Linked DNA regions of Homo sapiens: region 1 is linked to region 2. Evidence: fine-mapped expression QTL. A gene starts in region 2. The other region holds a variant in brackets. All regions are shown on one strand. Distances are from middle to middle. Region 1 overlaps LOC105369867 (a long non-coding RNA gene). Region 2 holds the start of PTPRQ (protein tyrosine phosphatase receptor type Q).

Evidence for each region. PIP is the estimated chance that this variant, and not a neighbour inherited with it, causes the effect. A credible set is the group of variants that fine-mapping cannot tell apart.
Region 1: its variant is the best candidate, but not a certain one, in a credible set for the expression of PTPRQ in fibroblasts (GTEx, PIP 0.85).

The regions. Positions count from the first base shown.
Region 1 is chr12:80,686,923-80,703,470 of GRCh38, forward strand. All of the region lies in intron 1 of LOC105369867 (a long non-coding RNA gene), which reads right to left. Among named protein-coding and RNA genes, the nearest start is that of MYF6, 12 kb to the right of the region's middle. RefSeq lists an enhancer at 16,190-16,249. The variant C/A (reference allele first, on the strand shown) is at 7,400.
Region 2 is chr12:80,434,945-80,451,492 of GRCh38, forward strand. It overlaps PTPRQ (protein tyrosine phosphatase receptor type Q), which reads left to right and starts at 9,291. Exons shown (of 45, transcript NM_001145026.2): 1 at 9,291-9,455; 2 at 9,797-9,905; 3 at 10,547-10,773. The coding sequence starts at 9,402.

The DNA of each region.
Region 1 (16,548 bases), 250 kb after region 2:
AGAAACAGTGCAAACCAACTGAAAATAGAATGACACATTCAAAGTGCTGAAAGCACTTCCTCAAACTGACCAAAAGCAATTACGAAAAAAGCTGGAGCTAATATTATGCTCAATGGTGAAATATTGAAGGCTTTCACCCTAATATCAAGAAAAAGTCAAGGATGCCTGCTCTCACAACTTGTATTCAACATTCTACTGGTGTTTCTAGCCTTTATGATAAGGCAAGAAAAAGAAATGAATGGAATATATTGTGTAAAGGAAGAAATAAAACTGCTTATGTGAGTAGAGAAAAATATATCATGTATGAGAAAAATCTTAAGAAATCTACCAAAAAAGCTACTAGATATAACAAGTAGCTTTAAAAAAAGAGTCAAAGGATATAAAGTCAAGATACAAAAATCTACTTCTACATACTAGTAATGAACAACTGGAATATTGCAGTTAAAAATACCATTAACAATAGCATCCAGGGGGAAGGGAGAGCATCAGGATAAATAGCTAATGCATGAGGGGCTTAATACCTAGGTGATGGGTTGGTAGGTGCAGCAAACCACCATAGCACACACTTACCTATGTAACAAACCTGCAAGTCCTCACAGGTATCCCAGAACTTAAAATTAAATTAAATTAAATTTGTAAAAAAGCATCCACAAACATGAAAAGTTTAGGATACATTTAACAAAATCTGTGCAAGATCGATATACTTAAAAGCCACTAAACATTAATGATGGGAATTAAGATTAAAATAAATTTCTCCAAAATTCATTTTCATAAACTCAAAACTCAATATTGTTAAGATGTTAATTCTCTTCATATTGATTTACAGATTTGGTGAAATCTCAATAAAAATTCCATAGGACTTTTTTAAAGAAATTGATGAACTAGTTTTATAGTTTATATGGTGCAAAAGACCTAAAGTGACTAAACACTTTAAAATAGAACAAAATTGAAAGATTTACACTATAGATCTATAGATTCATTTACAGAAAAAAAGGTCCAAAAATAAACTTGCACACAGATGGTAAATTGGTTTTCAACAAAGATGATAAAATAATTCAACAGGGAACATATAGTCTTTCCAAAAACAGTATTGGAACAACTAGATGTCTATACGAAAAATCACGAATCATCACCTTTATACAAATACCCACAAAGATTAAATTGAAATGGATCTGAGACCTAAATGTAAAGGCTAAAACTATTTAGCTTATGGGGATAAAAGTAAGAAAAATTCTTCATGAACTTTCAATAAGCAAAGATTTCTTAGTATACAAACCAAAAATAAAACATCGAGGAAAAACTTGATAAATTATCCTTCATCAAAGTATAATTTCTTGCTCTTCAAAAGACACTGTTAAGAAAATAAAATAAAATAAAATAAAAATAAAAAAGAAAATAAGGCCAGGTATGGTCTCTCATGCCTATAATCTCAGCACTTTGGGAAGCCAAGGTGAGAGGGTCAATTGAGCCCAGGAATTTGAGACCAGCGTGGGCAACACAGGGAAACCCCATCTCTACAAAAAATTTAGAAATCAGCTAGGTGTGATGGCACATGCCTGTGATCCCAGCTACTGGGGAGGTTGAGGTGGGAGGATTGCTTCTTGAACCCAGGAGGTCAAGGCTGCAGTGAATTATGATCATGCCATTGCACTCCAGCCTGAACAACTGAGTGAGACTCTATCTCTAAATAAATAAATAAGCAAATAAATAAATGAGATGGAAAGTCAAGCCACAGGCTGGAAGAATAGCAGAAAATATTCACAATACATGTAATAGGATACAAGTCCTGGTACTTATATCCAGAATATATGTATATTTACAAAGTATAACACACACACACACACAGATAGCCAGTATGTCAAATGATATTTAGCACCAATACAAAAGATGTTCAATACCATTAGTTATCAAGGAAATGCAAATTAAAATCATGAGATACCATCACACACCCAATGGGATGATTAAAATTAAAATTATCAAAATATCAAGTCATCTTGGTAAGGATTTGGAGCAGCTGGAACTGGAAGTATAAAATGGTACAATCCACTTGGAAAACAGTTTGGCAGTTTCTCGTAAAGTTAAACATACTACCATTATTACCATACTACCCAACATTACCACTCCTAGTCATGTATCTAAGAGAAATTAAAATATACTTTCAGAAAAGAAGTTGTATTAATGTTCTTAGCAGCTTTATTCATAACGGACAAAAATATAGGGTCCAAATGACAATCAACAGGAGTGGATAAACAAGTTGTGGTCTATTTGAGCAATGAAATACAAATTGGCAATAAAATAGGAATAAACTACTAATACACACAAGAGCAGGGAGAATTCTCAAAAACATACGCTGAGTGAAAGAAGACAGACACAAAAGAGTACCTACTGTAAGAATCCATTCTATGAAGTTCTGGAATAGTTCAAACTAATCCATAGTGATAGAAATTGAATAAATGATGACTACTTGGGGTATGGTGTAAGTGGGGAACTGAATTTAGTCGACCAAAGGGAACATTTTGGGAATGATGAAAGTGTTCTCTATCTTGAATGGAGTGCTGTTTACACAGGCATATTCATGTGTAAAATCCCTTAAGTTGTATACATACAATGATTGTATTATTTTATGTATACTATAAACCAATACAATTTACTAAACAGAAAAATAATGAAAAAATAGTTTTGAGACATTTGTATGCCATTCATATAATGTTTAAAAAATACAACAGGTAGTACATTTTTTGTGGATGCATCCATCTTAGTACAGACATAAAATCAAGGGAATGAATGGGAATGTAAAAATTCACATCAGAATCATGGTTTCCCCTGGCAAGGGAGCAATGCAGGTATGGAGATAGATTGTGATGGAATCAGATTGGGATACACAAGGGCTTCCAATGCATTTGTAAATTTTTGTTTTAAAATTTGAAGCCTATCTGTCAACATTGTCAGATTTGCTAAAATTAAGTAATGAGTAAAATATTTATTGTATTATGCTTTATAGTTTTTTGTTTGATGAATTTTATAATTAAAAAAACAGGTAATTTTAAATTTTAATGATTTATTAAAATAAATGACATAAAGTGTTTATGGATTATTTTCACAATAATAATAATTCAAGCTCTCCTGGTTGAATGAGTACAACACTGAGAAAAATATTTACTTACTTCTGTTATATGCTTACTCCATTCCCAAAGCACTAACAATCAGTCTTTTAAACATTTTAAACATTAAAACTTGATATGCTCCAAGTTCTTCCCAAAGAATTAATTATGCTCCTATTCACTTAGTATTTATAACCCCATGAACTGCCTTGAAAAATATGATGAATTCACTTGCTGGACTCTGACACTGGAACACAGAGTTGGTTTCATCAATCTGAGTGTACTACATTCACAAAGTTGGTAAATAGTAACAGGATTAGTACTGACTCCCTGGGCTATTAAATCAGAAGTTTTACCTACTTACGTGTTAAAGATTATACTTAAAATTGTGATATGAATAATTGTGATACATTTAAAATTGTAATAATTTTATTTACTGTAATTAATAATAATCTTCTTTATTGAATCATTACCATGTGCCGGGCACTCTTCTAAGGGCTTTACAAATATTAATTCATTAACCTCATGACAATTCTCGGATAATAGCACTAGGTGCTATTATCTGCCTTTTACAGATAGGGAAACCAAAGCAAAAAGAGGTTAAATAAACTGCCCTAGATTATACATTAAGTAAATGAAAGAGCCTAGACTTGAACACAGGAAGTCTGGCTTCAGAGCCTGTAGTGTTTGCCACCATATCCTGTTATGTTACATGGAGACCACTAGATATATGATAATATCTACTTGGACGTAGTACATACACATAAACTCTATGCCCTCTTTCAAGAACAGAAGCTTATGGATAGTATCTGTAATAGCTATTTTATGCAAATTAAGTTATTCATGTCATATAGTCAGTGATAGTGCCAGCCTTTGTATTTGGGTGTCTAGTACTATACTCTTTCTCTTATTCACTATCTCATCCAATATACATTTGGTCCAAACCAAATTGTATGGTTTGTTTGCTCCAACTCTACACTTGCCAGATTTAAATCTAAAGCTCTGAAACGCTGAGATTTAAGTCTAAATCTCAGCTCTGATCATTTCACTGATCTATTCAGTAGCCCTTCATTGACTATTAAATTAAACTCACTTTTTAAAAATATCTTCCCACAGTATTCTTTTTTCTAGAACTAAACCAAATTAGAATATTTGCTGCTTACTAAAACACATCCTACATGTTCCCAAATACCATGCTTTGGCTCCTACATTTCCCTCAATAACTAAGACCTTTCTTAGAACTGAATTCTGAAGGCGTTTTTGCAGGTTCTTATCCACTGGCATTCTCCATTTACTAGATTGTCAACTGGTTGTGAACAAAGACCAAGTTATTCTCATAATTTTATCCACGTAACACTTAAATAACATCTTACTCATGACAGAAACTTAAACAAAATGTTCAATTGACAGTTTGCCTTAGCAGAAGTAAAATAATGTCTGTGTGACAGTGTATTTTCCTACCAATTCACGCATGCTAAAATATCTTTGCAGTCAGGGAACAAACAAACACTTGTAGATCAAAGATAAATGAAGGTGAAAGAGCAGGGAAAACTGGCATACAGTGATTAATGTATCATTTGCTCAGGATTATCAGTTATCCACAATGTAACCAGGAACTTGATAGTGTGTAAAAATCCTTTAAACAACTGAAGCCAACAAAAAAGAATTCTGTATAATTGAGCAACTTATTAAAAAGTAGTTCATCAACAGTCTTTTTTTCTTACATTATAAATACTTCAACAAACTTGGTTTTCCAGGTCATGGCAATCCAGAAACAGCAAAATTGATGGCTTATATACTTATTTTGTGCACAAACACACACACACACACTTCCTTATTAACAACACATATATCTTCAAAACCTAAAAATTTGGGACCATTTATTGAAATCCAACATATTTCAATAGCCACTGGATAAAAAAAAAATATTACAACACCAGCCTCTGCATCTTTAAGAAAACATTTTTTTTCTCTTTCAATTACATTATGTTTACTGTTTAAGGAGACAGAAATGGGTTTGACATATTATTTAAAAGATCTCATCAAAACTTATTAGACTGAAAAGGTAGGGTAAGGCAGTTTCAGAAGAAAGCTGGAACAAGATATCCCACAGGGCTGAAGCAGGTGGTAGAGATGCAGAGGCAGATCTGGATTCAGTTGCCAATGTGCACATGCATGGAGGCAGACAGCAGGTCCAGAGAGTACAGTAATGAGCAACAGATGGTGAACCCAGCTAGGACACATGAGAGTAGACTAGCAAGAGGTAGCATATCATAACAGGCAGGTGAAGCAAGGCTAAAGAGAATCCAGGAACTGGCACTAGGCAGGTCCAAGTGGCAGGGAAGCAGGTCAGCAGGGAGCAAGATTCTACTCGCCAGCTAGACTCAGTGGTGGCTCACTTCCTCAGGGTGATATGCAAAGTAGAGACCCAGATGGGTTTCAATGGCCCCTCATATCCTGCATATGAATATATAGAGATATATATATACACACACACACACACACACATATATATAAATATCGTTTACAGTGCCTAAGAGTACTAAATAAATGGTAACTCAGTGAGTACATGAATGAATTTTTCAATGTTTTAAGTAATTTAGGGTACTAAAGACATTTTAGAGGCAGGGAATCATCAAAATCAGGTACCAAAAATGTATTACCACTAATCTAACCAAAGCAGTAATAAAGTAAACAAAAATAACATAAGTCAAAATTCCCATTATTTGGTACAAAAATATTGCATACCTAGAAAATACAGATAAATAGACTGAAAAAGATATATACGTAATAAGAAATTCTCTAATGCAGGTGACTGCAAAATAAATATATAAAAATCATAAGTAGTCAATTAACATGAGTGAAAGATAAAATAGGAAAAATTAGTTCACTGACAATGTCCAAACTATAATAAAATATTGAGAGGCTAAACTTATAGTGCATTTCTAAAGAATACTATAACATAGGGAAATGCAAAATATGATTTTTTTAAGTAAGAGAGGCCTATTATAAAGAACATCATTATTCTCCAATTACTTCATAGGTTTAGTATGCCAATTTAAAAGTCTTCATAACATTTAATTGTTCCAAATTTGAAAAAAAAAAAGTTAAGTTCATCTGGAAGAATAAATGAGAAATGGGTTTCAAAATTCAGAAAATAAAAATGATGAAAAAAGAACTGCCCTTTCATGTATTAAAATGGTTTATTATCTAAACAAGTTAAAAGTATATTGTTGAGATAACATACTTTATCTCAATGAAAGCAACCAAGGCCTCAATGAAACACACAGGTTTTTCTAACACAGTCTGTGTTAAAAGATTTTAATAGTAAGGAAATATCACCCACCAGTGGAAAAAACAAAAGTTATTAAGTAAATGATAGTAGGGAACTAAATGATTGTAGGTAAGGAAAATAATGGAGTCGTGTAAGATATAACCTCATCACCAGTAACCAAAATGGATTACGGAGAAAATAAATCTTAGTATGTCCCAAGGCCTTGTTTCTCTTTAAAGTCCATAAATAATTTCCCCCTTCTCAGGGTAATTAATGTCCAGTGAATCCTCCAACCCCAATTTTAGATATTTACATTTTCTCCACAATTTATCAGAATTCAAAGATGTGTATCAAGAAACTAAACCTAAAGTTTAGGTCAATAGACTACTTTGAGTAGCCTTACTTCCTGGTACAACAAATTTAATAAAAGCAGCCTATAATATAATCTGTTATAATTAGGAAGGACTTGTTAAAATAAAATAAAATAAAATAAAATAAAATGAAAACCAGGTTTGAAAAATTTCTAAGCAGACAAACCCAGCTAGCCTTGAAAGTAACCTTAATCTTGCTTGGACTGCAAACATAAGCAAAACAAGTTGGGCCATTTATTGTAAATGCCAGAATCATTAAAAAGAAAACAAGTTCAACAAATCAGAAGCTGCCAGCAATGGAACAGACCAAATAGAGCAACTATATAAGTGTAACCACTCAAATATTTTCAATTTCTTGCTTCCCAGTCATGCTATAAAAGCCTTCCACTTGGATTTCTTTAGTAGAGCTCAAGACGTCCTTCAATTTGGTGTTTCCCAAATGTATGTACCACTGTTTGCCCAAATAAACTCTAAAATTTGTATAGTGTCTCAGTTTATCTTTTAACAGACCTTATTTGTATAATGGAATTTCCCAGGCAATTGAAGCTTATTTTTGGGAGCAAGCTACCTGGTTTCCTGCTCCAACATCCTCGTCTCTATATTTTAGAAGCAACTCAATCTAACCAGAAAGCTCAGCCTCACTCTGGAAAGAA[C/A]TTAGTCCTTATCTAGGAAAATATTATATTCCTTCAGTACTCTTAGATCAACATCAAGAAAATCTTTCTGTAAATGTAGTGCATGCCTTGTTTCCCAGTCCTAGAAACTAAGATTTGGTCTTATTCACCAGATGCACTTCTTCTACTTGTGCCTAAATTACTGATTTTATTTTATTGTCTCAAATATTTATTTTCTCATTACAAAATATAAAATTATTATACAATTTGTACAAATGACAGAAAAATCTAAAAAGTAAAATGAAATTATATCACGTTAAACTCTAGTACCTAAGGGTAACTCTTATTAACAATTTGGAGTGATGTTTCCAATCCTTTTTTTTCTGGTCATGGTCACTAAAAGAAATGTAAGATTTCATGAAGATACCTAGTGACATAATTGGGGGATTTATGGCATTGGTTAGAATTATGACCATTTTGCTTTTAAGGCCTGGGCTTGAATTAAATGAAATTTATAAGAAACTATTAAATAAGTGAGTCCATTCAAAAATTGGCTAAATTAACTCAGTTGAAAGAAAAGGCTTGTTTTGCTGAGTTTTTCATGATTATGAAGTCTTTTCTAAGACAATGAATTACTATTTTTAAAAACATGTTATATTAGTCTTATTTTTTTCAATTTCCTTAAATTTTTTTTGAAATAATATTTCATTTGTCATGGGAAACTATAAAGAAATATGTTACATACTTACTTTAATGAACTGTATGCATACTGACTACAATCTAACTCTACCAAACAGGAACTTATTACTTGATTTTTAAACAATATGCCACATAATCTAGCAGTAGACATTATAGTGATATAGAATACTTTGTACTTAAGTTCTCATAGTATATCAAGGTAGCTGGTTATACACCAAGAAAAGGTCCTTATGTTCTAAAGCAAATAAAATTACAATTTGAGAGATGTTTATGCAAATTTAATTCCAATAAAGAATTATTTATAAAACAATATGTGAGGCTAAGTGATTTATCCTAGCATTTCTTTTCTGTATGTTTGTTTTCACTTTAAATGCACAATATGAAGATCTGGGGCTGATATTAACTCTCTTAGGGATATTGTGAACAAAAAGTCAATACATCTGAAGAACTTTAAATAATAACTGGCTAACAGTACTCAATACATACTGGTGGTATTTATCACCTCTATCATCATATGAGAATTTGGATTTTACAGTAATTGAATCCTTGATACAGTTTTATTTCTTCTTGACATTGTATTCTAGAACCCATGTTTTAAAGTAGAACTTTAAGGAAGAAAAGAAGTTGTATTACATACAGTGGCCAAAGTGATATATAATTTAAATGATACTTATTTCTACTAATGTAAAATCATTTAACTGTGTATTTGAAGGTAAATTTATGCTTACTAAAAGCCAAGATTCATTCCCAGTTGAAATAAAAATAATTTTAGATAGGAAATTTCATTAATCTTCTTTTCATGACATATATTAGAATGAGAGAAGGGTTTTTAATCACTTGCTAGCTTTTCTTTTATCTAACTTAACTGTATCTGTCAATCATTGAACATAAAATAGGTGTTGGGCATTGTGCTAGGCCAAAAGTTCTCAGTAGTGGCTGCACATTTTAATCATTTTCCATTTCCCAGGTTATTCTATTGTGCAGCCAGGTTTAAGAACCATTAGGCTGGACACATTTAATCTCATCAGAATCCCTACTAGCATTTACAGAAATACTCTGGTTCGGTTGGGCTGCAGTGGATCTTGGGAATCCAAATTTTAACAAGTTCCCCCAGGGTTACAATTGATCATAGGATTATTACTTAATAAATCTTGAGTCCTGATTATGTCAATCGCACTATATAGGCTAATGTGATCATTTCACAGGCCTCTCAGAAATGAGCTACCCAGTATGTAACACTTAAGATACCATTTTTTAAAAATGAAGATGTACTGGACTAAAAAGTGTTTTACAAAATTATTTTAAGGTAAACTAAAATATTTTTATTACTACAAATCAACAGCTTTGTAAAGAAAAAATGTGAAGGATACAAAAAGAAGAGGTAAGGATTAGTTTTCCACGTGGGGTTCCATACTGTTCTGACTATCTTCAGGTTCCCATCAAACTCTGAACCAGCAAGGTTTGGGAGGTGACAAGGTAGCAACACAGATTAGCTTCTGATGACTGTTTTGAAGAGTGAGCAAAGGTAAATAACCACATGTCTTGAGACCCTTATACTTATGAGCCCAGCTAGATGAAATAATGACTTATTGACACAGAGACCAAGGACATCAAAGATGCCCAGGTACTCAGGAGCAAGGTGACTAGGAACAAGTAGCCCACCACTGCTTTTAAAAAACACAGTCAATAAATAATCATACTCATCTATGTAACCATAGCATGAAGGTCTGACTGGTGTACTAAAATTTGGTTGTGACAGCTAGACTTGTGTCAAAAGCTTAGCAATTTTAGCTACAGAAAAAAAAAAATGTCTTGTTACAAAATGTATTTTGAGTAGAGAACTTCTGGTCCCATAGAGGTTTCAGGAACTTCTACCAAAACAAAAGTTTTGGCGGAATTATTTTCAGACAGTAAATGAGCATTATGTCTTGCATTGATTTAAATATGCATCTTTTGGGCAAAACACCAATAAAATTTAAGCAAATACCAAATAGAAATAGAAATTTAAAATTCTAAGAATAAAAAATGCCATTTCAAGACATTCTCATAGATGATAGAAGGTTTTGACAGTTATTACCACTTTCACTCAATCACTCACAAAAATTACATAGTGTCTATTTTAGAACAGATAGTCTTCTGCAATCTATATTGATTATTGCATATTTCCTGCCCTATGTAATGGGTGATATGAACAATAAGCACTATAAGGCAATGTGATAAGTGCTAGGATATATGTAAACATAAAATCAGATACTATAATCAATACAAGCTATGAAAAGTGAATATAGTTTGATGATCCACACTCCACAAATAGCCTCCTTATGAATATTTCCTTACAGACTGAATTTTGAAGTAGAAAAATGTAGGAAACAACATCAGGAACTTCCAAGCTTTCTGTGACTTATGTGCTAACTTTTCTACCAAATTGTATTCCCAAAGAAGCAAATCATTAACAAGGAGATGTACTTTACCCTAAAGCCTTCTGTGTCAACCCAGTATTTTAAGCATTTTAAATAATTCCAGAGTATGCATTGATTTTGAAAACCCTGTGATTTTTTTAGAGTTGATTTTAATAGACGTCTAGTGGTCAATTCTGAACTCAGAATGGCTTCACAATCCCACTTTCCCCCTTATAGCTTTTCCCTCTCTCCCCCACACTCTCCCTCTTCCTCCTTCTTTTACTCTCCTCTTCTTTCTCTCATTCTGTTTCTTTCTTTCTCCATTATTTGTCTTTAATAGACTATTCAAAGTCCCAGAGTCCCAGAGCCTTATAAAGGTCTTGCTCTGCACTTCTGAAGGCACATCTAAATTACTGCACCCTCAGAACAATTTCATGCTAATCTTATAAGATTTTATAAGATCGTACTTCATTTTTCCCTGTGTCTGAGGTTATTGCTATTATGATGTACTTATAAAACTCTTTAAGTAACTTACCACTGCCAAAAATAGTATTACAATATTATCATATATCCAAAAGCTGATTTTAATAATCACTTTGATCTTCAAAAGATAACTTATTCATTGAGAAGTCTGGGATTTTCTTCAAAGTCAGAAAAATATAAGCTTTTTGGTAAATTGACATGGATAAGATTAAAGAAAAATTTCTGCTATTAGAGATTTAGAAACTATTTAGAATACCAAATCCTCAAAGAAGTAAAAATAAAGTATGGAAACATAAGAAGTCTAGGTATTTTAGAATCATATACCTAAGATTAAAGAATTAATATCTGGAAAAGAGTTCATTCTTTTTAAAAAGCAGCATATGTTCTTAGTGCTACTGCATCGTAACATAATTCAAAATCTAAAAGACTAAAGCATATTAATGAATCTGAACAAAATAGTAAAAGAATATCGAAACCATCAAGCATCAGTTATTACACTTATATCTGTTTTAATCATAGCAACCACAAAACAATTGCTGTCTTTTGGCAAGCCTCAAATATAAACGTTTCCAGGAACAGCACGACAGATCGGTAAAGTGCAAAGCAACTCTTGATTCTTGCATTGTTTCTTTGTGATGTGATGTTTCTCACTAAACCCAAACAAAAACTGACACAAGAAAAGAGCGTATTGTGCCATGGAGAAATCATACCACTGCACGGTCCAACTTTATTTTATTACAAAACAAATGTTAGACACATCTGCAGCCATTCCTTATATTATTCATTTTTATGCCCTTTAATCCTCAAAACGAGGGTGCTTTCTGATCACGAATAAAAATTTGCAAAGTCGAGCATATTTCACAAAGGAATAAATAATCATTATCTGTTGCCTGTGATCTGTTAGTGCTTCCAGTCATGGCTGTGATATGAGTGTACTCACACATGTGTGCACACACGCCTACTAATAGAAAAAAAAAGATTTTCTGTAAGCAACTTATAACCAGGAATCAACTGGCAGGTGTGTGAAAAGATTCAGGTTAGGAAAGGAGGCACTGGCATGGATTTATTGCTGTCATGACCATTAAGTCTTGATAGAACTAATTGATTTTGCTCTTTTCACTTTTTAAGAGGTCGAGCTGAAGTTCCCTTTTATGAGATTGGGTAATGGAACAAGTGGTGAACTGAACTAAGGACTTTGTGACATACATTAGAACTCTGGTGTTATTTGGTCCTCTGAACACAGAAGGAATGTCCAACAAAGAGCCATATCAGAAAAGTATGTAAAATCTTAAATTGCTACAACAGCTGAGCGAAGAGAATAGTTCTATTGAAAGAAAATTAATGAACAAGTGTCAAAATGGACAGTTGGTGTCAATTCCTAGAGGATTTGGAAGTGAGAAGTGGAGTTGAGGAAACCATGTTAATAAGCTCTTGTTTGCATAATAAGAACGTCGTACCTCACCAAATATCCATCATAGGAGTCATGCTTGTCACAGTTCACATTAAAGCGTTTCACAGAAAAGAATGCTTTACTATGCGTCATGGAAGCACCTTATTTTGTTGATCTCCAACAGCATATGATCATCTATTTTCGTGGAAACAAATTTAGAAAGGAATTCTACACTCAGCTTATGTGGTAATTCTTGGATCAAACTGTGCCCATCATTTTGAGAAAGAAAAGACCCTTTCAAGCCCAAGCTAACTTATTTCTAAGTGAGTTTAAAATATGTTAACAAACCAAGATGTTTTGTTTTAGCCTCTTTCAGTTGTAATCCCATTTAAAACTAAATTCTCTCTATTCTGTCAACTAATAAATAAGTAGTAGTTTTTTTAAATTTTTGATTATTAAATCTCACTAAAAGCATAATTAACACAAATTGAAAATTTCAAGTGTATTCCATCTCTATCTTAGGAATACTTTATGTGAAAGGTATTTCTTAATAAAGGCTTTCTTTATAAATGGCTTACATAAAATAATTTGCTAAACTTCAGTATAATTTATATTAATAAACCAAATATAGCAAAAATAATTATATCAAAATGTAATTTGTTTCAGCATATCTAATGGGAGACTAAGAAAATAAAATTTCTCTTCCAAAAGATCCTACAATGCCTTTTTCCATGTGCTCCTTTGTAGAAAAAGTAAGATCAGTATTTGCTTTTATTTTTCTCTTTATCTCTATCAACCATATTTACATTTAGCCTTCTCAATAGTTAGACACCTCAGTAATTTCAAGTGAGCATAATATCCTCAAAACATGTGATGTCCAATTGGAAAAGACTGTCCTATCCATGAGAGTTAGATATGGCTAGTTGTTCACAGGATCTGTGTATTGGTTGTAGACACCTTCTACCTGCTAAGATCCCTTGCTCGCTCTCAACCCTAGTCCTTGTTATTACTGTAAGTGGAGCCGACTAATTGGGGAAAAGAGAAAGACAGGATATAAGAGCATTGTGTAACTTAGTATTTGGAAAATGTGTTTTCTCCACATTTACCCTACAATAGTGCACTAAATTATTCCATCTTTTTCCTTTTGCTTCTCACTGTGTGTTTTAAAATAATGAATCAGACCATGTGTTTTGAGTATCTTCACTTGAACATCTATTTTGTGACCTCTGAGACAGGCTGCCTGTACGTAGTAGTGTACATGGAAAATACCATTGTGTCATTATTTGCTAATGGGACAATACGTAGGTCCAAATCTCAGCCATCAGTTACCAACATGCCTCTTTGGGACATGTGACTGAAAACAAAACAAAACAAAACAAAAAAGAAACAAAAAAACAGAAGTTAGCCTGAAGTTTCCCAAATAAACACTCAAAGCTCCTGTAAGGTAGGTAACTCCTAGAAGACTATTCTTTTGGTCGCTGTCAGGAGATTCAGAAGAAAAGCTTCTCTTTAATTATATGAATCAGTGCCATATGAACCAGGTTTAAGTATATAGCATGCAATCTTGGGCAAATAGATTAACTTATCTTTGCTTTGCTTTCTGTATTTTTAAAATGAAATCAATTATATTATACACTTGGTAAAATATTGTGAAGATGTAAAGAGATCATTTACTTAAAGTACTTCAACATATAAGGGCCTGCAACTTATTTTTTTTCAGAGTTGAACAATGGCTACAATTTTACAAAATAAAAAACTTATATATATTACTACTTTTTATTCTTTTCTTTTGGAAGCACCAATTCTTCAACATTATATTGCTACAAAAGAAGCAGCATAAATCTCGCGATAGCTTATACTGAAATACAAGAAAGTGAAAAAAATCTATTTAAATGGCTTAATAAAAAGGCCATACTAATATTGTAAAATTCACAGACAGTCTTTTCTAATATGACAACACTTAGCCCAAATCATATAAAATCAGGGAAGATAAAATTTAATATGATTAATTTTATATGACCAGTGACATGTTGAACATGTAATGCCTGTACTTTAAAAAGCTCCAGATTATATGCAATTTAAACACATTATAACTTTCTATCACTCACTAACCTAAAAACTAACATGTATTATCCACAGACAAAAATGTCTGGACTTTCAAAAAAAACGTGAGATGTAAGTGAATATCTGATTAAACAACTTTTTCTTCCAAACTGGTAGGGAAACTTTATGGAATAAATGTGTTTGTACAGTGGTGGCTATCTGTCACGGTAGACCCTGACACAGCCATTAAAGCACCAAACATTTTGGGCAATATGTCATAACCAGCCAGTTGGAGGGCAGTAACAAAATACTTGGCTAACCATACTATACTAGAGACATTTGTTTATCTTAGCAAGCTAGTAACACCAAGCACCACTATAATTGGGGTCATCTGAATATCATGATTCATTGCATTTTTAAAAGAATTAAACATCATAGGAAAATCATTCCATATATTTTGGATTTTGAACATTTAAAATATTAGTTGTTTTAGCATCATAAAATGTTTATATAATATTTTCTTTGAAAAAGGCAATATATACATAATATTATATTGTATTTATATTTAAATAAAAAGTAACAAAATTTGCATTCTATCATATGACATTATGTAAAATTTTGTTCATATAGAAAACAAAAAAGTAGGGTTTGATTTATTGAAGCAACAAGGAATGGATGATTTTTTTTCCTTCAATCATAGCTGAAATAATTTGTGTTGAATGTTGTTTATGTGCTAGATACTGTATATTGGATTTTATTGACATTATTTAACCTTTAAAACAATATTATAAAGTAATATTATTTCTATTTTATAGACTAGTTAATTAAAGCTTAGAAAAATTATAAAACATGTCCGATGTCAAATGATTAGCAAGTAGTAGAGCTGGGCCTAGAACTTTGTCTAATATCAAAACCCATATTTATAATCACAGTAATTTTTTAAATAAAAAATCTATACTTTATATATCCTGCACTCTGTACATTGTTCTTATTTATGAATAGATGTATGTCAGTTTCTATGGGCTTTTTCTGGGAAATAGAATGACAAACTCATTCTGACTTGACCAGGATTTCCCCAGTTTTAGCACTGAAAATCTGGCCTCCTGGGTACCTGCTCAGTCCTAAGCAAACCTATGCCAGTTGGCCCCTCACCAGGAAAGAATACTTAACCTGGAAAAAATTCTAATGGTTTCCAAATTTTAATCTTAAATTCAGAAATCTGAATAAAAGCGGGGGGACGGAGGTGCAGAATTATGAAGAAGGCTTCATGTTTTGCACTGAGGAATATGTGTTTCTCAGGGAGAAAAGCATTCATTGTCACCTTCCCTGGAAATTATGCCTGAGAATTAAGAAATGAATAGCAGCCTTCTTAAGTGTCGTTTTGCAGCTAGTACATAACTGAATACAGATTTTTGGAATCAGGAGTGAGAGCAAAGAGCAAAAATGTGTTTCTTGAATTATCTGAAGAGCAGCCTCGTTGGTTCCCCCTTCGCTTGTTCTAGACTCATTTCCTTGGTGCTGTTTTTAAAAGGGTGCTCCATGGTGGGCCTGGAAACCGAAGCCCTTCCTAATCTAGGTCCAGCCCCATTTCTACGCATAACTTCTCACTGCCACTTACTGGAGATTGCAGAAGATTCGCCTTTAATATCTTTCCTTTTCCTCTGCTTGGTTTATGCCCCTCCCCCAGGTTCTCTGAAGTGACTCAGATGTTCTGTAGGTCTAAGTGCAAAACTATTTTTACCACAGCGTTTGGGAATCTCTGGGCACAAACTGTCTGCCGATTAGGTAAATTACAGGTGCAGGAGCTCATGTTACTCATTTAGCTGCCACAAATTGAAAGCACTAATCTGCCTCTTCTGAGTTTTGCCTTTCAGTCAGCGGGCTCCTCCTTTACCTTCTATTCTTTATGGCTACTCTCCGCCCTTGCTGGGTGACCCTTCGTCCTGAGGGCTAGCCTGCGTTCTGTTCACTCTGTTTCTCTCCTCTCTCTCTTCTCTCCGTTCTTCTATACCCTTTTCTTTCTTCTATTTTTCATAGTTGAAAGAGTATAATCATCGTCTATCCGGCCCTCAGTTCTGCTTTATCAGCTGTGGCTGAAACTGCTTTCTTTGAATCTGACTATGTAACCAAATTCCCCAGCTATCACCCACACAAATCTCTTCCCTAGTCTCTGACAG
Region 2 (16,548 bases):
TGCATGCCATCCAGACAGGAAAAGCTGATTAAAGTGATTGTTTATGGCAACAAAGCCAAAGTAAAAAAATTGACTCTGGGCATGGACTACATGTTTCAAGTGAAGAAAGTTAAAGGCAAAGGTTACAGTGTATCTGTAATGAAAAAAGTGCCTATAAGTAAGGAAAGATCATAGGTAGTATTTAGTTTTATAGTTCTGTAACACTTGAAAATATTTTGGCTAAGCATGATTATGGTTGTTTTAAGACATAAAAGCTGATAAGTAATGATGATCTTAAGAATATGATTAAGAGAACTCAAAAAACATGTGAATTTAAAAAATTATTTGTATGTCTAGATATATTGAGAGCTACACACAGAGTTTTTAAAAATAATCTGAAGCCAAAAGTATGCATATATGTGTGTATGTATATATTGTTATATATGTTAGATACATGGAATACATATGTATACACATGTATATATATTATGCCATAATAATATAAGCACAATTCATTTTCTACTGACCTGAGGGTTGATAAACAGAGTAATTCTGTTTCTCTTTCCTGAAGTTTGTAAATTTATTATAAATTGGTTTGTAATGTTTTTGGGTGAGGTGGAATAATAGTATTAGTTATCAACAGTTCTCATGAAAATTTGTGAGGTTGCCTCTCAGTGGAGACTAAATGATAATGCAAGTAGCAACATTAGTTGTATCGATGAACAGATTAAAAATGCAGCAATATAGGAATGCTAAAAGCTTTGATGTAACAAGAAGACATTTGGAAATGCCCTTACTCCTAGCCCTCGCTCCCTCTCTAACTTATTCTCTTTCATCTTCATTCGGCATCTAGCTATGTGCTTGGTGGTAGCTAACAAAATTCTGATTATGTCATATAAGGATATGTATGGCTACAAGCACTCAAGAGGCACAAAGCTAAAGGAATGCCTTTATCACGAATGATTTATGACTGATGAAGGAAAGATATTTGGGAACTAGAGAGAATATTGTTGTGTCACTTAAATTAAAACCCATATGTAATGTCTTATTTTTCTATTTGCAGAGATAAACATATAGAACATTATACATGAGTAAATTAAAGGACTGTTACATAGATATTTAAATTATAATATTCATAATTGCTTTATTTTTACTAATATATGTGTAATTTCTATTTATATATAATTTACCTTTTCATTAGAACCATCTAGGATTTGTGGCTTAATTTTGAAAGCTGTGAATATTTCTTCAAATTTAATGTGGAATACAACAGAGATCAATTTCACCCATTATAAGATTTATATATCAAATAGAACATTTGCAAAAGACTGTCTTATTTGGGAAGTGGTGACTGAGCACACAGTTACAGATGTGACTCCTGGTGTAATATATAACATCATGGTACACAGAATAAGAGGCAACCTTGGAGGATGTGGCATGTTTACCAGGGTTGTTGCAGGTGTGCAAATTCTCTTTGATATTTAAGAAATTCACATTTCTGTTATATATTGTATTGTTCAAGATAAAATTTCAATAGAATTTTTTGAAATTTGAAAACTTACAGTCTATAGACTATTTGAGAGGATGAAAATGCTCATTTTAGTGGGCTGTTCTGCAGATTTTTTTTTTTTTTTAATAAGACAGAGTTTTGCTCTTGTTGCCCAGGCTGGAGTGCAATGACGCGATCTCGGCTCACTGCAACTTCTGCCTCCCGGATTCAAGCAATTCTCCTGCCTCAGGCTCCTGAGTAGCTAGATTACAGGCACACACTACCACACCTGGCTAATTTTTGTATTTTTAGGAGAGACGGGGTTTCACCATGTTGGTCAGGCTGGTCTCAAACTCCTGACCTCAGGTGATCCACCCACCTTGGCCTCCCAAAGTGCTGGGATTACAGGCATGAACCACTGCGCGTGGCCTGTTCTGCAGATTTTCGACATAACATGTGAAATATAAATTGAATAAAACATTATTTGACACACAGTGATCAATAAATGAGGTTAATATTATATTCAGTTTCACACCGAATTAGAGATCTAGCCAGTGGAATTATGTGGTATATTTGGGATCATCTATTCTCCTAAAAATGTGTTCTTTGTCTTTGACATCCTAATATGTGTTATACACATGAAAAAGCATAGTCTTATGATATCCACAGCATAGTAAAGAATACAAGTATGGAAACACATGTAGTATAAGTCAGTGCAACAGGCGAAGCAATGGAAGTATGTCCAAACTTATTGTAGTTGCACAGAAGAGGGAAAGATTAGCCCTACAAACGCAATAGAGAAAGCTCTTTGGGGCTGGTAATGTCTGTAAAAGGATTAGGAATTTGCTAATCAGACTAGAGAGCATATGGAGTGTGTGAAAAGGAGGACTCCCAGAGGTAGGGAACAGCCCATGCAAAACTATGGAGGTGTAAATGAATATGCTGTATTTGTGGAACTATAAGCAATTCAATATTGAAATATTTTGTTGTTTTTTAATATATAAAGAGAATAAAATCCTATCCTGAGTAATTTAGAGAGTAATTTTTAAATCCAAAGGAAGCTGTGAAGCCTATGAATATTTTAAATTTTTCAAAAAAGAACAAGATTGCAAGAGTAACACATGAGAATTACTCTTAAGTGATCTTGAAAGCTATGGATTGGACAACCGACCCGAAGGTCCCAGACATATGGTGGTAATTCAGGGTATGGGTAATTATTATTTGGCTGTCAACACTTTCTTAGTTTCTTATTTTTACTGTAGCAAATTATCACAAGATAGTGGCTTAAAATAACTCAAATGTGTTATCTCATAGTTCTGTAGGTCATAAGTCCAACATACTTCTCTCTGGTTGAATCAAGGTTCTCGTAGGGCTGTGTTCCTTTTTGGAGATTCTAGGAGAGAATAAGTTCCTTGCTCATTCAAGTAGTTTGCAGAATTCAGTTCCTTGTGGTTGCAGAACTGAGGTCATTATTTCCATGGTGGCTGTCAGCTGACAGTTGTTTCCAGATTTTAGAGGATGGCTCATTCCTCGACTTGTGATCCTCTTCCTACACCCAATAAAGGAGGGTTGAGTGCCACTCGGGCTTCAAAGCTCCCCTTTCCCCCCATCATATATGACTCTTCTGACTTCCTCTTTTACTTTTATGGGCTGTTATGATTAGATCGGGACTACCAGGATAATCCAGTTTTGATCTCTGTTTATAGTTTATAATCTTAATTCCATCTGCAAAGTGCCTTTTGCCATGTAACACAACATATTCACCGTTCCAGGGTTTAGCATTTGGGCATCTTTTGTGGGGGTGGGCCTTACTTATACTGCTTAACACATACACTATTATTCTCCTAAATGTGATATATATGTGATAATGCAAAACAAGGAATAAATTTAGAATTCATATACCAGCTTTACTCCAGGATTTGACACTGGTTAGCTGAGTACTACTGGGCAAGTTACCTGATGTCTTTGGGTATCAAGTTTCTGAGAAATTTAAATTAGATGACCTCTGAGATTCCTTTTGACTCATACACATTCTCCTAACACTTTGCACATTTTTGTTCTATTTCTACAGATAATCTATGACTTACAATGCCACAATTTTTCTACTTTACAATGATGCAGAAGCAATATGCATTCGGTACACTCCTCAACTTACATTGGGGTTACATCTGATAAACCCAGCATAGGTGGAAAATGTCACATCAATTATGATGGGTTATCAGGATATAACCCCATTGTAAGTTGAGGAGTATCTGTGTATATTAATAGATACTATATACCTTATCTACTTCTAAAAAGCAAATGTGTTAAATCATGTGTCAAATGTCTTTTACTACAGAGTATTATGATAGGTAATGTATACAATCGAACACACTAAAATGGGACCCATTCTAGAGGTTTTAGTCTGTGGCAGCGTTTCTCAGCCTCACCACTATTGATATTTTGGGCTGAGAGATTCTCCTTTGTGAGGATGTGTCTTGTTAATTGCAGGATGTTTAGCAGCATCCCTGGCCTCTACTCACCAGATGCTAGTAGGATCTTTCCAATTGAGCCAATCAAAATTTTTGTTAGAAAATTGCTGCAAGTCCCCTATGTGGCAAATCACAACTAGTGGTAAATGCAGATATATTTAGTTAGATACAAAGATCAAATAGATCATTGAGCAAAGACTGAAGAAAAAATATGAAAAATTATTTTGTTTATACATAGGTAAAGGAAAGAGTGCAGTTAGTGTGAGTGGCAGGATTTGCTCCCTTAGAGAAAATTTTGTCAGAGGAAAAAGTGACCAAGGTGGTATCAATATCAGGAAAGTTTCATAAAAGATACAGAATGTTTGTTTTCATTTTACTTAAAGAAAAGAGAGCTTTATAAAATAGTAGGAACTTGATGTTCTGGTCGCCTAGTGTGGTTTAGGTGATGGTTTTGAGAGATTGCAGGTAAGTAATTGAAGTCCCTGTTAAAACAGCACAGTGACTTAAGAGATGAGTATAAGAAGAGGAAATGGGAAAAGATGGTAATCTGGGTTCCCTGGTGGAGGTCTCCAGAGCAGGAAGACATCTTGCTGTCCTAGTTTTTATAAACAGAAGAGCAGTGATGATGGAGCAGTGCTTGGGGATCCATTTTGAGCAAAGCATTGAGTGGATATGAGGAGGGGGCTAAGCTGAGAAATGAAGAACAGGTAACATGATGGTTTGACTAAGAGATGACCAGGGCTTTTAGAGAAAAATAGTAGAAATAGCAAGAGACTATTAATCATAGCTTACATTTAGTACTTAGTTCTTACTATGTTCAAGGCAGTCTTCTAAGCACTTCACATGTATTAACTTATTTTATTTTCACAACAATGTGTGAGGTGTTATTATACCCATAGAGATGAGGCTGGTGAGGTATGGAGATATTAAGTATTTTGCTTAAAGTCTTGTTTATATGGCAGAGTCAGGATTTGAACCCAGCAATCCAACTCTAGGGCCTGTGCCCAGTGTCTGTATTAAAAATTGATTTTTACACCCTGGTGACATCCGATATAATGCTGACTTTTTAGAGGATGTTTATTTTATTTATAATTTATTCATAGCCTATTTCTAAAATATGAGGAAGCTACAGGCACTTGATAAGTATACATTGCCCTGGTATGGGACATATTTAGACTGAATCCCTTAAGCCAAAATTAGAGGTCACTTCAAATAATAATCATAGGCTTGAAAGAAAAATTATAGATCATCTAATTTTGTGGTTGAATCTATTTTAAAGTATTAATTAATTCATTTAGGATTTTTAAACCAGCTGTTATTTGTAAGCCACTTTGTGAAAGTTAGAGGAGCACACAGTTATCATAGTGATTGAAAACTTGAAGACTTTGCCTCTGGGTCTAAATCCTGGCTCTACCATTTACCCATTAGCTATGGGACCTGTTGGAATTACTTAAATTCTTTGTTCCTCACTTTTAAATGTCAATAATAGTATTCCTGGTGTTGTTGCAAGTGTTACATAAAACAATATATGAAAGTGCTTAGCACAGTGCATAGTGTGTCATAAACTTAGTAGGAGTTAGTTCTTTTTATTTTGTAAGTCTGCTGCTTGTACATCTCATTATCTGTCATAGAATACATTATGTCCGATCTATAATTTAATCACAGAAAAATTAAAATGTGAGATTTAAAACTTATCAGATACAGTGTTAGTGCAGAGAAAATATAAAGTTAACAATGATGATGAAACTTTTAAAGTCTTAGCATTTTATTTTAAAATATCTGCCCATTGTAGTCTTTTGCTTTCTTGATACCATTTTGATAGGTCTGACTCTTTTTTAATGTTCTGAGATATGTAAGATTTTGTATATATTGGATGTCTTCCCAACTCTGTTGAGCTGTTTCCTTTATAGACAAAGACCATGGGATCTTATTTCTCAGCTTCTCAAAATAAAATTTAGGTAAATTCACTGAAATGCCAAGGAAAAACTTAAGAGATGCTGTAGTAGTTAAAGCTGTACTGTCCAATATGTAGTGTTTGGCAGCATGTGGCTATTTAATCTTGGAATATGGCCAGTCCAAATTCAGAGGTACTGTAAATTTAAAATGTATGTGAAATTTCAAAGAGTTAGTATGAAAAAAATTAATGTAACCACTTCAATAATTTTATAGTAATTATATGTGAAATAATGCTTTTGATATATTGGGTTAAATAAAATACATTATTAAAATTATCTTACATGTTTCTGTTTACTTTTTAAATGTGGCTACTAGAAAATTCAAAACTGCATGTGTGGCTCACGTTATAGTTTTATTGGACATTGATGGTTTAGAGAATCACAAGATATATTAGGATATCTGAGGCTTTAAAATACACTGCAATAAAGAAAGCTGCTTAACTTAAAAAGAACTTATTTGACAAAGTGGTTTGATTACAGAACATCTATTAAGCTCTAATGATATAAGGTTCTGAGGATTAATTTTTAGGAAATTAAAGTCTGGAAGAAACACGTAAATAAACCTAGAATTCCTTTTGCTTGCCCTAATTAAGTTGAATATGAAATGTTTTTTTTCCTCTTAAAACTCCAAACATTTCAACTTCCCAATGTTATTTTTATTGGTTAGTAAGAATTAGGTTGAGAATAGTATTTTTGTTTTTTGGTTTCCTATTTTTTGAGAGATTAAATTCCATGGAGAATAAATTATATATTTATTATGGAGTCTATTTTCAGTTAGTTGAACCTTCTAGCTCTTAACCAGAAAGCTGCACTCTTTCATAATGATTTAAGCATTGCTGTAGATCCTCTACCTTTTTCTGAGTGCAAGCTTTCCTCCTCTCGGCCTAGACTACCATGATTTCCTACTAATTAGCTTCCTGCTGCCATTTTTGCCTTGCTCTAATTTATATCCCATATTTCAAAATTATATTTTTAAACAAAAAACAAGCCCTGTTGCTTTCCTGCTTAAAATTCTTCAGTGGCTTCCCATTGAATTTAGGTAAAAAACCCTAAAATCTCTAGTATGACCTACATGATCATCAGTCTGTTCCCCTTTCTTTTTTGATCCCAGAATCTCAGTCTGGCTTTCCTCAGTTACTCCAATCCTTTTTCATTTCCAGGACTTCCATACACTTTGCTATTTGGAAAGGCCTTTACCAAACTCTTGTGAAGATTCCAGGCCTTCCCTCTTGATCAGATTGGCAATTGTCCAGACCAATATATTTTTCTTTGTCTTGGTGAGACATAGTTCATTCCTAAGCAAGGGTTCTTCAGTCCAGGAAACCACATCCCATTTCACTGCCATCCCAGTAACTAGTGCTTCACTTCTCACATCTTCCTTTTTCTTCCAAAGTCTTATTCCATATCTTCATTAGTTTCTTGTCTAAGACTTCATAGATACTAGTTACTCTCTGGGGTCCCTGAAGCAATAGTATTAACCCTCACACAAATCAGTAAATGTGAGTAGTAGTTGGTTAGACGGATCAGTCATGGTAGATTTTTGTGTATTTTAATGTAGCAGATAGGAGATTCAAGCTTTTTTTCTCTCAAGCTTGAGAATACAGAGGGCATAGGTCTGGCTTACCTTGTAAAAAATGCCAGCAGCTAACAATGAAATTCTACCCAACACAGGCTGGGTATTTCTCTGATTTTTTGCCTTGGGTTTACAGTATTCCTAGAGTTACCAGAAAACTATAGTGGACAATTAGCGGTGGATGCCAAGAGAATGCTTGGAACTTTGAGAATGTTGGGGTGGACATTAATCAATTGATATAAGCTTTGGGTATGGAGGACAACGTTATGTTATAATCATTAGAAGAAATTTCAAAGGCGATAAAGAAAAACTATTTCAGAAACGCTCTTCCCTGAAACACCAAGAAAGTGACCTATTATGTTAATATTTTTGTTATATGCAATGTGCCCTGTTAGTTTTGTTAGAAAATGTACATTTTATTATATCCATTTTCAAATCGTTTCTGGTAGTGGGGTTTTAAAATGATAAATGAGGTTCAAAATTAATTCCAGCCTCCTTTCTTTTAGAAACAGTGTTAGATTGAATCTGCATCAGGCGTGTTTTCACATGCTTGGCTTCATAATCTCTCTTCCTCCCCCTATATTGTTTGCCTGGAATCTGCACTAAAGATAAGGCAGAGTGCAAACCTGACTCATTGGCAACCAATCAGAAGAACTTTATGTGGAAAACTCCCTTCGAGGAGGTACAGGCAGCATGAACAAAATTTTTGAAAAAGTGGAAGCAAAGGTAGAAAAATATGGTTGAAATGGCTAAAACAATTGGTACTTGTTTTAAAACTATATTTCATTTCTGATATGAAACCTTATCTTTTCTTTTAAAGAAACACCTAACAAAATATTTATCAGATCAGCACCACAGTAAAGGGAAAAAGACATTAAAAATTAAAAAAGATAAAATAACAAATATTTATCAGAAATGCTCACCCTTCAAAAAATCTGGAAGATTTTGATTATATATTTTTCCAATTATCTTCTGTTTGGTAAATTTCCAAGTAATTGGATAAATAGTTTATATTTACTTTGTTTTAAAATGACTCAAATTTTCAATTAGAGCATAAGCTTTCAAAAACAATCTGGTCAACTAGCAGACTTTTAGCAAATAAGACATATTTCAGAAACAGAAAATTAATTGTTATATTATTTATGATAGTTATACCTAAAACCTAGGTGTTGTTAAATATTTACATGTTTAACACCCAAGTATACTTAGAGATCATTTATTGTACTCAGTGATTTCTAACAACATGATTATTTTGGAACTTGAACCTATACTATTTGTTTTCATTTTTTTGAAACTTTAGGAGAATAACTTTATTTTAAACCTCTATTTTTCAATATCAGAACCAGAACAACCTGAGAAACTTAGAGCCTTCAATATTTCCACACATTCCTTTTCTCTGCACTGGAGCCTACCCTCTGGTCATGTGGAAAGGTATCAAGTGGATCTTGTTCCTGACAGTGGCTTTGTTACTATCAGAGATCTTGGAGGTGGAGAATATCAGGTATAGTTTTCATTATTGTACTTGCCGAGCCTACTTGTATTTATATTTTGCTCCTAATAGGAAAGTTCTTTATTTTATGAAACCCATCTACCACAAAAACTTACTCCTTGTTGGGTTTTTGAAAGCATAAGTTGAAGACAAAAACGTTGATGTCAAACTGATGAGTGTTAAGTTTCAGCATTGGTGGACTGTTACCTTAGCAACATCTATGCTGCTTTTTTTTTTTTTTTTTTTTTTTAAGTTCACCCTGAACCTACAGCCAGTCATCCAAGGGTTCATGAATAGTTTAACAAAGAAAAGGCAGAGCTATTGAGTAATATGGGCTCATTAATTGTGTACTTGCCAGAAGGATCTGTCTTTAAATCATTAATGCAGGCAACATTTCTCTCTAGAGCCATCAATGTGATTCTACTGGCTGAAAAATGTAATAAAGATGGATTTTCTTATCATTTTTCTTTTACTTTTTATTGGGACTTCAGAGACACAGGTATTTCGTATACACTCTTTAAAAACAAGGGCTAAGTCATGGGCTGTAGATTTCTCAAGACTTGAATAGTTGTTCCTTGTGACAGTGAACTAGGATAGATAGAAATGCTGACTTAGGCTGTGATAACGCAGTACGTTTTGTAAGTTTTTATTTTAAAGTCATTTGGTAAAAAGTTATATAACATATTTGTATCTTACAATAATATGGAACTTATTGTGATGTTATAAACAGTGCAGAGTTATATAGTGAAGAGTTAATTTTTGTTATAGTGATAGATTTATTTTAGCTTGCTTGCTTTCCAGAAAGAATTTTAATGCAACTATTTGTTTGTGGTGTTCTAGGTTGATGTTTCCAATGTCGTTCCTGGTACTAGGTACGATATAACCATCTCTTCAATTTCTACAACATACACCTCACCTGTTACTAGAATAGTGACAACAAATGTAACAAGTGAGTATATGTTTTAAATTACTTTGTAAGTAAAGTATTTGGAGTCAGTATAATTCTACTGGATGGAAATACTTATACTGGCAACATGTACATTAAATTCATGAAAACAGTGTAGAATAAGGCAAAATGGAAACAAGAAAGTGATCTGCTTAGAACCTGCATTCTGCTGTTTCTTCAGCTTCCTTTACTTTCAAAGTGCAAAGATAATTACTCTATACTTGTTTGTGAAATAGATCAGAGAGACTGTTAATGCTAACATTTAAATAATACAGAACCATGAAAATGAACTGGCTACATTTGCTCAGGAAGGATTATTCCATTTGTAAGATTATTTCTTGTTTTCTTAGTTTTTCTGTGTAAGCCTTGCGTAAGTGAATTTCTTTTAAAAATGATTTGGCAACAAAAGTATATTCGGCATGTAGTATTTATTTAGTAGCATTCCATTTTTCACATTCTTATAAAGGAATGCTTTTGGTATTCCACATAGTATTTTTTTAATAGTAACAGAGCTGTAGGGAGTGTGAACTCATATTGCTCTTTGGAAATTTCAAATTTTACATTTATAAATACTGTTATTATGTATTTTTGTGAAAATGCAATAATTATTTGACCTTTTAACAAAATGGATTTTTTAAAAATAGAACCAGGGCCTCCAGTCTTCCTAGCCGGGGAAAGAGTCGGATCTGCTGGGATTCTTCTGTCTTGGAATACACCACCTAATCCAAATGGAAGGATTATATCTTACATTGTCAAATATAAGGAAGTTTGTCCGTGGATGCAAACAGTATATACACAAGTCAGATCAAAGCCAGACAGTCTGGAAGTTCTTCTTACTAATCTTAATCCTGGAACAACATATGAAATTAAGGTAATTATTTTGTGTATGACTACTTAGTGTTCAAACATTTCATTCATTTTAAAAGTGTGGGAGGTTTTTCTCACCTTGTCAAGCCTTTACAGCTGAATACAGTCAGTGACTGACAACGTTCACAGTCATGGCCTCACACCCACCTGAGATTTTAAAACTTGGTAAAATGTTATTGTGTCTTTTCATTTCAATTTTATGCATATTTATATATTACCTATTTCATTTTTTCTATGAATATTTTTGCATATATTTATATACATGTATGAATATAATACAATACTCTAGGAAATAAAAATTATGTAAAGTTAAAGAAGGAAAACTTAAATGCAAACAAGAGGCCAGGGTAGTTTGAATGCAGGTATGTAAACCACAGGATGTTACACAGTTATTAAAAATTGACTTGCAAACTTTATTCTCCAAATTCCTAGAAACCACAGTAAAAAGGGCAATAAATCTGTTATACAATTTACGTATGAAAATTGTATAATAATTGCATATGGGAGCTCAAGTTTTTTTTTTTTTTGGTGCTTTAGACTGGAAAGAAAGTCTTCGTTGAAGGATTAATAGCTGCAGGACTGGATTTTGTAAACTTCTTTCCATAACAGTAAAATAATAAAAGTATACTTAGTAAAAATAATTTTGCCAGGTTTTGAGATATTGTGGTCTAAGAACATGGCCTTGTTCTGTATATAAAATTTAGACTCCAATGAAATGTCTTTTTTTTAAATTATTTTTGATTCAGGGGACATGTGTGCAGGTTTGTTACGTGGGTATATTGTGTAATGGTGGGGTTTGGGCTTCTAGTATACCCATCACCCAAATAGTAAACATTGTACCCAATAGGTAATTTTTCAATCCTCACCCTCTCCTACCCTCCCCATTTTTGAAATCCCGTGTTTATTATTTCCATTGTTATGCCCATGTGTACTCATAGCTCCCACTTGTAAGTGAGAATGTGTGGTATTTGATTTTCTATTTTTGAATTATTTCACTTAGGATATGTTCTCCAGCTCCATCCATGTTGCTGCAAAGAACATGATTTTATTTTTTATGCCTGCATAGTATTCCATGGTGTATATATACCACATTTTCTTTACCCATATGATAGATACTTAGGTTGATTCCATGACCTTGCTATTGTGAATAATGCTGTAATAAACATGAGTGATGGTGTCTTTGTGATACAATGATTTCTTTTCCTGGATAGATACATAGCAGTGAGATTGCTGGGTTGAATACGGTAGATCTATTTTCAGGTCTTTGAGAAATCTCCGTACTGTTTCTCATAGAGGTTACATTTCTAGCAACAGTGTATTAGTGTTCCCTTTTCTCTGCATCCACACTGCCATCTGTTTTTTTGACTTTTTAATAGTAGCCATTCTGATTGGTATAAGATGATGTCTCATTGTGGTTTTAATTTACATTTCTTTGATAATTCCTAATGTTGAGCATTTTTTATATACTTACTGGCCACTTGTGTGTCTTCTTTTGAGAAATGTCTGTTTATGTTTTTTGTCCACTTTTTAATGGGGTTTTTCTCCTTGTATTGTTTTCATTCCTTGTAGATTCTGGATATCCATCCCTTGTTGGAAGCATAATTTGCAAATATTTTCTCCAGCTCTGTAGGTTTTCTGTTTACTCTGTTAATTATTTCCTTTGCTGTGCAGAAGCTTTTTAGTTTAACTAAGTCCCATTTAAGTCTATTTTAGTTTTTGTTGCATTTGCTTTTGATGTCTCAGTCATAAATTATTTGCCTAGTCCAATATCCAGAAGAGTTTTACCTAGTTTTTCTTACTAGTATTTTTATAGTTTCAGGTTTTATATTTAAGTCCTTAATCCAGAATGTGCTAATTTTTGTATATGCTGAGAGCTAAGGATCCAGTTTCATTCTCTTGGATATGGCCAGCCAGTTTCCCCAGCACCATTTATTGAACAGAATATCCTTTCCCCATTGTTTATTTTTGTCAACTTTGTCAAAAATCAGTTGGTTGTAGGTATGTGACTTTATTTCTGGGTTTTCTATTCTCTTCCATTAAAGTATATCTGTATTTTTCTATCAGTACTGTGCTATTTTAGTTACTATAGCTTTGTAGTATAATTCGAAGTCAGGTAATGTGATGCCTCCAGATTTGTTCTTTTTGCTTAGGATTGCTTTCATTATTTGGGCTCTTTTTTGGTTTCATATGAACTTTAGGATTGCTGTTCTAATTCTGTGAAAAATTACATTGCTAATTTCATAAGAATTGTGTTGAATCTGTAGATTTCTTTGGGTGGTATGGTATGTTGATTCTTCCAATCCAAGAGCATGGAATGTTTTTCCATTTGTTTGTGTCATCTCTAATTTATTTCATGAGTGTCTTGTAGTTCTCCTTGTAAAGATTTTCACCTCCTTTGTAAAATGTATTCCTAGATATTTTATTTTTTTTGTGGCTATCGTAAATGGGATTGAATTCTTGATTTCATTCTCAGCCTGAATGTTATTGGTGTATAGAAATTCCACTTATTTTTGTACACTGAATTTGTATCCCAAAACTTTATTGAAATTGTTTATCAAGTCTAGGATTATTATTTTTGAGTTGTCGTTAGAGTTTTCTAGATATACAATTGTGTCATCAGTGAACAAAGATAGTATGCTTCCTGTTTTCCAATTTGGATGCCTTTTTAAAATTATTGTACTTTAAGTTTTAGGGTACATGTGCACAATGTGCAGGTTAGTTACATATGTATACATGGGACATGCTGGTGTGCTGCACCCACTAACTCGTCATCTAGAATTAGGTATATCTCCCAATGCTATCCCTCCCCACTCCCCCCACCCCACAACAGTCCCCAGAGTGTGATGTTCCCCTTCCTGTGTCCATGTGTTCTCATTGTTCAATTCCCACCTATGAGTGAGAATATGCGGTACTTGGTTTTTCGTTCTTGCGATAGTTTACTGAGAATGATGATTTCCAATTTCATCTATGTCCCTACAAAGGGCATGAACTCATCATTTTTTATGGCTGCATAGTATTCCATGGTGTATATGTGCCACTTTTTCTTAATCCAGTCTATCATTGTTGGACATTTGGGTTGGTTCCAAGTCTTTGCTATTGTGAATAGTGCCGCAATAAACATACGTGTGCATGTGTCTTTATAGCAGCATGATTTATAGTCCTTTGGGTATATACCCAGTAATGGGATGGCTGGGTCAAATGGTATTTCTAGTTCTAGATCCCTGAGGAATCGCCACACTGACTTCCACAATGGTTGAACTAGTTTACAGTCCCACCAACAGTGTAAAAGTGTTCCTATTTCTCCATATCCTCTCCAGCACTTGTTCTTTCCTGACTTTTTAATGATTGCCATTCTAACTGGTGTGAGATGGTATCTCATTGTGGTTTTGATTTGCATTTCTCTGATGGCCAGTGATACTGAGCATTTTTTCATGTGTTTTTTGGCTGCATAAATGTCTTCTTTTGAGAAGTGTCTGTTCATGTCCTTCACCCACTTTTTGATGGGGTTGTTTGTTTTTTTCTTGTAAATTTGTTTGAGTTCATTGTAGGTTCTGGATATTAGCCCTTTGTCAGATGAGTAGGTTGTGAAAATTTTCCCCCATTTTTTGGGTTGCCTGTTCACTCTGATGGTAGTTTCTTTTGCTGTGCAGAAGCTCTTTAGTTTAATGAGATCCCATTTGTCAATTTTGTCTTTTGTTGCCATTGCTTTTGGTGTTTTAGATGTGAAGTCCTTGCCCATGCCTATGTCCTGAATGGTAATGCCTAGGTTTACTTCTAGGGTTTTTATGGTTTTAGGTCTAACATTTAAGTCTTTAATCCATCTTGAATTGATTTTTGTATAAGGTGTAAGGAAGGGATCCAGTTTCAGCTTTCTACATATGGCTAGCCAGTTTTCCCAGCACCATTTATTAAATAGGGAATCCCTTCCCCATTGCTTGTTTTTCTCAGGTTTGTCAAAGATCAGATAGTTGTAGATATGCGGCATGATTTCGGAGGGCTCTGTTCTGTTCCATTGATCTATATCTCTGTTTTGGTACCAGTACCATGCTGTTTTGGTTACTGTAGCCTTATAGTATAGTTTAAAGTCAGGTAGTGTGATGCCTCCAGCTTCGTTCTTTTGGCTTAGGATTGACTTGGCGATGTGGGCTCTTTTTTGGTTCCATATGAACTTTAAAGTAGTTTTTTCCAATTCTGTGAAGAAAGTCATTGGTAGCTTGATGGGGATGGCATAGAATCTATAAATTACCTTGGGCAGTATGGTCATTTTCACGATATTCATTCTTCCTACCCATGAGCATGGAATGTTCTTCTTTTGTTTGTATCCTCTTTTATATTTCATTGAGCAGTGGTTTGTAGTTCTCCTTGAAGAGGTCCTTCACGTCCCTTGTAAGGTGGATTCCTAGGTATTTTATTCTCTTTGAATCAATTGTGAATGGGAGTTCACTCATGATTTGGCTCTCTGTTTGTCTGTTATTGGTGTATAAGAATGCCTGTGATTTTTGTACATTGATTTTGTATCCTGAGACTTTGCTGAAGTTGCCTATCAGCTTAAGGAGATTTTGGGCTGAGACGATGGGGTTTTCTAGATATACAATCATGTCATCTTCAAACAGGGACAATTTGACTTCCTCTTTTCCTAATTGAATACCCTTTATTTCCTTCTCCTGGCTAATTGCCCTGGGCAGAACTTCCAACACTATGTTGAATAGGAGTGGTGAGAGAGGGCATCCCTGTCTTGTGCCAGTTTTCAAAGGGAATGCTTCTGGTTTTTGCCCATTCAGTATGATATTGGCTGTGGGTTTGTCATAGATAGCTCTTATTATTTTGAGATACGTCCCATCAATACCTAATTTATTGAGAGTTTTTAGCATGAAGCATTGTTGAATTTTGTCAAAGGCCTTTTCTGCATCTATTGAGATAATCATGCGGTTTTTGTCTTTGATTTTGTTTATGTGCTAGATTACATTTATTGATTTGTGTATATTGAACCAGCCTTGCATCCCAGGGATGAAGCCCACTTGATCATTGTGGATAAGCTTTTTGGTGTGCTGCTGGATTCCATTTGCCAGTATTTTACTGAGGATTTTTGCATCGATGTTCATCAAGGATATTGGTCTAAAATTCTCTTTTTTGGTTGTGTCTCTGCCTGGCTTTGGTATCAGGATGATGCTGGCCTCATAAAATGAGTTAGGGAGGATTCCCTCTTTTTCTATTGATTGGAATAGTTTCAGAAGGAATAGTACCAGTTCCTCCTTGTACCTCTGGTAGAATTCGGCTGTGAATCCGTCTGGTCCTGGACTCTTTTTCGTTGGCAAGCTATCGCTTATTGCCACAATTTCAGAGCCTGTTAGTGGTCTATTCAGAGAGTCAACTTCTTCCTGGTTTAGTCTTGGGAGGGTGTATGTGTCGAGGAATTTATCCATTCCTTCTAGATTTTCTAGTTTATTTGCATAGAGGTGTTTGTAGTATTCTCTGATGGTAGTTTGTATTTCTGTGGGATCAGTGGTAATATCCCCTTTATCATTTTTTATTGCATCTATTTGATTCTTCTCTCTTTTCTTCTTTATTAGTCTTGCTAGCGGTCTGTCAATTTTGTTGATCCTTTCAAAAAACCAGCTCCTGGATTCATTAATTTTTTGAAGGGTTTTTTGTGTCTCTATGTCCTTCAGTTCTGCTCTGATTTTAGTTATTTCTTGCCTTCTGCTAGCTTATGAATGTGTTTGCTCTTGCTTTTCTAGTTCTTTTAATTGTGATGTTAGGGTGTCAGTTTTGGATCTTT